Regions from separate parts of the Homo sapiens genome. Here region 1 is linked to region 2. Evidence: fine-mapped expression QTL. A gene starts in region 2. The other region holds a variant in brackets. All regions are shown on one strand. Distances are from middle to middle.

Region 1 (2,897 bases), 39 kb after region 2:
GCGGTGGCTTATGCCTGTAATCCCAGCACTTTGGGAGGCCAAGGTGGGTGAATCACTTGAGGTCAAGAGTTTGAGACCAGCCTGGCCAACATGGTGAAACCCCATCTCTACTAAAAATACAAAAAATTAGTCAGGCGTGGTGGTGGGCGCCTGTAATCCCAGCTACTCGGGAGGCTGAGGCAGGAGAATCGCTTGAACCCGGGAGGCGGAGGTTGCAGGGAGCTGAGATCACGCCACTGCACTCCAGCCTGGCGACAGAGCAAGACGCCATCTCAAAAAAAAAAAAAAAAGGTGGAACGTGACTGCTGGCTGGGCGGCTGTGTGAGGATGAGGACTCCCGTGGGTCGCTGCGGTCCATTGCTAGAAAGAGTAAGTCTGAAGTTCCCACAGCTGCTGTAACAAAGGACCCCACGCTTGGGGGCTTAGAGGGACACCGAGTTTTCGGCCAGGCGTGGTGGCTCACACCTGTAATCCCAGCATTGTGGGAGGCTGAGGTGAGAGGATTGCTCGAGCCCAGGAGTTTGAGACCAGCCTGGGCAATATAGTGAGACCCCCATCTCCACAAAAAATGAACAAAAATTAGCCAGATGTGGTGGCTCATGCCTGTAATCCTAGCCACTCAGGAGGCTGAGGCAGGAGGATCACTTGAGCCCAGGAGGTGGAAGCTGCAGTGAGCTGTGATTGTGCCACTGTACTCCAGCCTGGGTGACAGAGCCAGACCCTGTCTCAAAGAATTTAAAAATGGAATACTGATTGATTATCTCACAGTTCTGAAAGTCAGAAGTCTGAGATCCATCTTGCAGGGCTCACCATCGAGCTGTGGGCAGGCCTGGGCCCTTCTGGGGGCTCCAGGGGAGAATACGTTTCCCATCTTTACCAGCGTCTTAAGCCTCAGGGCCCCTTCTTCTCCCTTCACAGCCACAGTGCAGCCTCTTCCAGTCTCTCTTTCTCACCCTCCCGCCTCCTTTTTTGTTTGTTTTTGAGACAGGGTCTTTCTCTGTTGCCCAGGCTGGAGTGCAATGGTGTGATCACAGCTCACTGCAGCCTCCACCTCCTGGGCTCAAGCGATCCTCCCACCTCCGCCTCCTAGTAGCTAGGGCCACGTGTGTGCCACTATGCCCAGCTAATTAAGTTTTTTGTAGAGAGGGAGTCTTCCTATGCTGCCCAAGCTGGTCTCAAACTCCTGACCTCACGCGATCCTCCCACCTGGGCCTCCCAAAGTGCTGGGATTACCGGCGTGAGCCACCGCGCCCAGCCTGAGTGCCAGCTTTCGAAGGGAGGTGCA[T/G]CAAAGAATTTGTGACCACAGACTCTTTTTCTGTCACACTCATCAACAACTCCTGTTGGCTAGTGTTCAAAAGAGATTCCTAATCCAGTCATTCCTCACCATCTGTGCAGCTACGGCTCTGGACAGCCCACCAGCATCCCGTCTGGAGGGACTGGCCTCTTTCCTCCCTCCCCTGCCCCTCTGTGAGCTGGTCACAGCCGTTAAGGGTGCCTTTGAAGTGTCCATCAGATTACATCATCCCTGCGACACACACACTAAAATCCCTCCAGCAGCCTAAAACCCAAAGTGCTCCTGACCTTCACACCCCACCCCTGATTTTTATTTTTTCTTTTTTAAAGAGAGAGAGAGTCTCTCTGTTGCCCATACTGGAGTGCTGTGGTGCGATCTCGGCTCACTGCAACTTCAAATTTCCGGGCTTAAGTGATCCTCCCACCTCAGCCTCCCATAGCTGGGACCACAGGTGTACGTCACCACGCCATGCTCATTTTCCTTTCTCCCTTCCCTTCCCTTTCTCCCTTCCTCCCTTCCTTTCCCTTCCCTTCCTTTCCCTTCCCTTCCTTTCCTTTCCTTTCCTTTCTTTTCTATTGAGATGGAGTCTTACTCTTGTTGACCTGGCTGGAGTGCAGTGGCACAGTCTCTGCTCACTGCAACCTCTGCCTCCCAGGTTCAAGCGATTCTCCTTCCTCAGCCTCCCCAATAGCTGGGATTACAGGCGCCCAGCACCACACCTGGCTAATTTTTATATTTTTAGTAGAGAGGGGGTTTTGCCATGTTGGCCAGGCTGGTCTCGAACTCCTGACCTCAGTTGATCCACCCACCTCGGCCTCCCAAAGTGCTGGGATTACAGGCATGAGCCACCTCACCCAGCCTCACTTTTCTATTTTTTTGTAGAGAGGGGAATCTTGTTATGTTGCCCAGGCTGGTTTTGAACTCCTGACCTCAGGTGATCCACCCGCCTTGGCCTCCCAAAGTGCTGGGATTACAGGCGTGAGCCACTGCACCCGGCCTCATTTTTCTGTTTTTTGTGGAGAGGGGATCTTGCTACATTGCCCAGGCTGGTTTTGAACTCCTGGCCTCAGGCAACCTTCCCTCCTCAGCCTCCCAAAGTGCTGGGACCACAGGTGCACTGTGCAGTGGCGTGATCTCACTACAAGCTCCGCCTCTCAGGTTCAAGTGATTCTCATGCCTCAGTCTCCCAAGTAGCTGGGACCACAGGCGTGTGCCATCACACCTGGCTAATTTTTGTATTTCTAGTAGAGATGGGGTTTCACCATATTGGCCAGGCTGTTCTCAAACTCCTGGCCTCAAGTGACCCACCTGCCTTGGCCTCCCAAAGTGCTGGGATGACAGGTGTGAGCCACTGTGCTGGCAGCAGTAAATATTTTCATGCTCACAAGGCAGTCAGGACTGTGTCCCTTCACTCTCCCATTGTCACGCTAAAGCAGCCGACCACGTGTAAAGAATTAGACACAACTATGTTCTCGTCACACTTTATGGACACTAAAATTCAAATCCTGGCTGGGTGCAGTGGCTCACGCCTGTAATCCTATCTTTGTTTTTTTGGTTTTTTTTTTTTTGAGACGGAGTCTTGCTCTGTCACCCAGGCTGGAGT
Region 2 (2,897 bases):
GCAGCCTGTGGGTAATTGGAGGTTCATTGAGAATTGAGTCTTTGGAAACACTAAGAAAATCAAATTTTTAAAAGTTATTTATGGCCTGGGAAACAATTTGCATTTGTCCCCAAATACGCTTAGCTGTGTGCCGCTTAGAACGATGCGAAACCATCCCTCTGTGTAAGCCCGTGCCGTGTGACTCGAAGCCTAGCGCCCTCCCTGCGAAGCATCAGACGCCACCCAGCCCTGGGGGGAGGCCCACGCCTGCTGGACCAACGCGGGTTCTGGGGTGCACAGCGCCAGGTTAACGCTGAAGCCTGCCCCGCTGAGCCCAGGAGCCGGGAGGCCTGCGGGCTGACCCAGAATCCGATCATGCACCTGTCCTCATGCCAGCGGCTTTGGCTGGGGTTGGTCTGAAGCCTGCACGCGGCAGTTCTTTGTTAAAGATCTGAGGGACTCCTCAGTCCTGGGGCGTCGCCGCCTGCAGCCTCTTCCAAGCCCTGCGTCCAGCGAGCGTCACAGCACAACCTGCAAAAACGGAGCTGGGCTGCAGCTGGGGCTGGCATGGACTTTCATTTCAGAGATTCGGTTTTTAAGAAGATGCATGCCTAATGTGTTCTTTTTTTTTTCCAATGATTTGTAATATACATTTTATGACTGGAAACTTTTTTGTACAACACTCCAATAAACATTTTGATTTTAGGTTCTGCCTCTGAGTTTATTCCTGAGGGGAAGCTCGAGCCGGGGCCTCTGCCCTAATGAAGCGGATGTCTAAGAAAGATCCCTCCACCCCCAAGGAAAAAGGTCACTGGCTAGTGTAGCTAGTGTAAACAGGACCCAGGCGATGCATGGGACCCTGCCCTTTTTTTTCTAGTGAGCCTCCGACGCTGTTGCACAAGCTGACTCTTCGTCACGTGATGCGACCGGGCTCCGCCCCGGCGGCAACACGCTGTATAGACGCGCCGGGTGCCTCGTGCGCATGCGCGGCAGGCCCTTCGGGACGAGCTGGAGGCAGAGCGTGAGTACAAAGTGATCGGCCTCGGCCGCACGTAGTAGCCCCCCTACTCCCCGGCCAAGTCAGGGCCTCCCTCTTCCCGCGGAGTCGCAACCACGGGTAGCTCGTGTAGGTAACGGCAGGTCCAGGCCTCCGCATGAGCGGAGGGCCCCCCGCGCGACCTTGAATGGCCCGGGCGCGCGCGGTCGTGTGGGAGTTGTAGTCCTCCGTCCCCGTCCGCGCGGACTCCGTTTCCCGTGGTGCCCCGGGCGGCCCGCTTCCGGCGCAGTTAGTTACGAGTCGGCGCACGCGGCCTCGGTCCGGTTGACTTTGCGGAGCCATGGAGGGCGGCTTCGGCTCCGATTTCGGGGGCTCCGGCAGCGGGAAGCTGGACCCAGGGCTCATAATGGAGCAGGTGAAAGTGCAGATCGCCGTGGCCAACGCGCAGGAGCTGCTGCAGGTGCGGGGCTGGCCGGGGACGGGCGCTGGGGGCGACAGGGCCACCCCTGGGGGCCGACGTCGCGGCTAAAGCCTCGCGTGTCTCCACAGAGGATGACGGACAAGTGTTTCCGGAAGTGTATAGGGAAACCTGGGGGCTCCCTGGACAACTCCGAGCAGGTGAGACCCGCGGAGGTTCGGGGCAAGGGTCGCGAGGGCCTAGATTCGAGGGGGGAGGTGTCTGCGCGTGCGCAGACTAACGGGGAGGTGCGACGGAGTGGTCACTGCACGTGCGTAGTCTGCAGCCCGGGCGTCCTGGAGCCGGGGTCAGGGCGGTCCCCGGGGCCGCGAAGTCCCGAGCTGAGCCGTGCGCCCCTCCGCTCCCGCAGAAGTGCATCGCCATGTGCATGGACCGCTACATGGACGCCTGGAACACCGTGTCTCGCGCCTACAACTCGCGGCTGCAGCGGGAACGAGCCAACATGTGACCGGCGAGCGCGGGCCACCCCACCCTGTTCATTTCCATAAACGTGCTTTGAGAGGCGGGGTCCGCATGTACGTACTGCCTGCCCGGGGCTTAGGAGGGTGGCACCGGTGCTGGGACACACGGGACTGTGTCCTCGCCACCCCCCGCCCTGCCCCCTGCCAGCCAGTGCAGCTTGGATCTCGGGGGTGTGGGGCCCTGTGCCTTCCTGAAGTGCTGGCAGCCCAGTGGCACCTCCTTCAGGCCTTTGGGGTATTCCCCTAGTGTGCCCAAGTCAGCCTCATATTCTGGGCGGACAGCTTGTCTGGACTTCGGAGTTGGGGGTGGTCAGACACCACAGGAGCTGTCACCTCCTGCGGATGGGCAAATAAATTGGTGGAGGACGGAGAGAAACCTCTTTATTTCCCTCCTGAGGGGTCTCTGGGAAGAGGTGACGCGTGTCCCTGGAACCCCAGCTCGGAGGGTCTCAGCCTCCCCTGGGTTGGGAGAAGTCCATCTTTCCCCTTAGTGCCACCGGGCTGCTGAGTCACGAGGAATGTGTTGCTGCTGCCACCCCTGCCCCAAAGGCTAAGGGGGACAGCCTTCCCCTTGTCAGGGCTTGCTTTGACCCTGCTTCGTTCCACCCCGGGTCCTGGTGGAGCACCAGGCAGGTGGTCCTCGCTGTGACACTGAGGTGCTGAGCCAGTGAGCTAGGGTGGAGGGGCTGTGTTTATTGGAACAAAGGGTGGTACCAAAATGCATCCCCATGACCCACAGCCCCCCCACACCCGTCCTTGGGTAGGGTACGGTGGGGTGGGGTGTTGGGTGGCCTGCTGCTCCTGTTGCTTTCACGTAGAGTCTCGGCCTGGGCAGTCACGTGGTGGTCACTCCTGGATGTGCTGTCCTATCCAGCCTCTCACAGCTGCCACCCGGGTATAGACACCTGGGAAGTGGGGCCGGCCACAGCCATAGCCCCAGCTAGTGACCCCAGTTAGCACCCACCGTCCAGAGGGCTCCCTG

What was found.
Region 1: its variant is fine-mapped to the expression of TIMM13 in whole blood (INTERVAL, PIP 0.91).

Annotation. Positions count from the first base shown.
Region 1 is chr19:2,386,470-2,389,366 of GRCh38, reverse strand. The region is part of intron 1 of TMPRSS9 (transmembrane serine protease 9); the gene reads right to left. Among named protein-coding and RNA genes, the nearest start is that of TMPRSS9, 28 kb to the right of the region's middle. The variant T/G (reference allele first, on the strand shown) is at 1,286.
Region 2 is chr19:2,425,953-2,428,849 of GRCh38, reverse strand. It overlaps TIMM13 (translocase of inner mitochondrial membrane 13), which reads left to right and starts at 1,264. Exons shown (of 3, transcript NM_012458.4): 1 at 1,264-1,436; 2 at 1,526-1,594; 3 at 1,804-2,897. The coding sequence starts at 1,317. The coding sequence ends at 1,902. TMPRSS9 (transmembrane serine protease 9) reads right to left here. Exons shown (of 19, transcript NM_001395513.1): 19 at 2,589-2,897. The coding sequence ends at 2,762. LMNB2 (lamin B2) reads left to right here. Exons shown (of 12, transcript NM_032737.4): 12 at 1-684. RefSeq lists enhancers at 794-943, 1,028-1,773, 1,774-2,517 and a silencer at 1,494-1,583.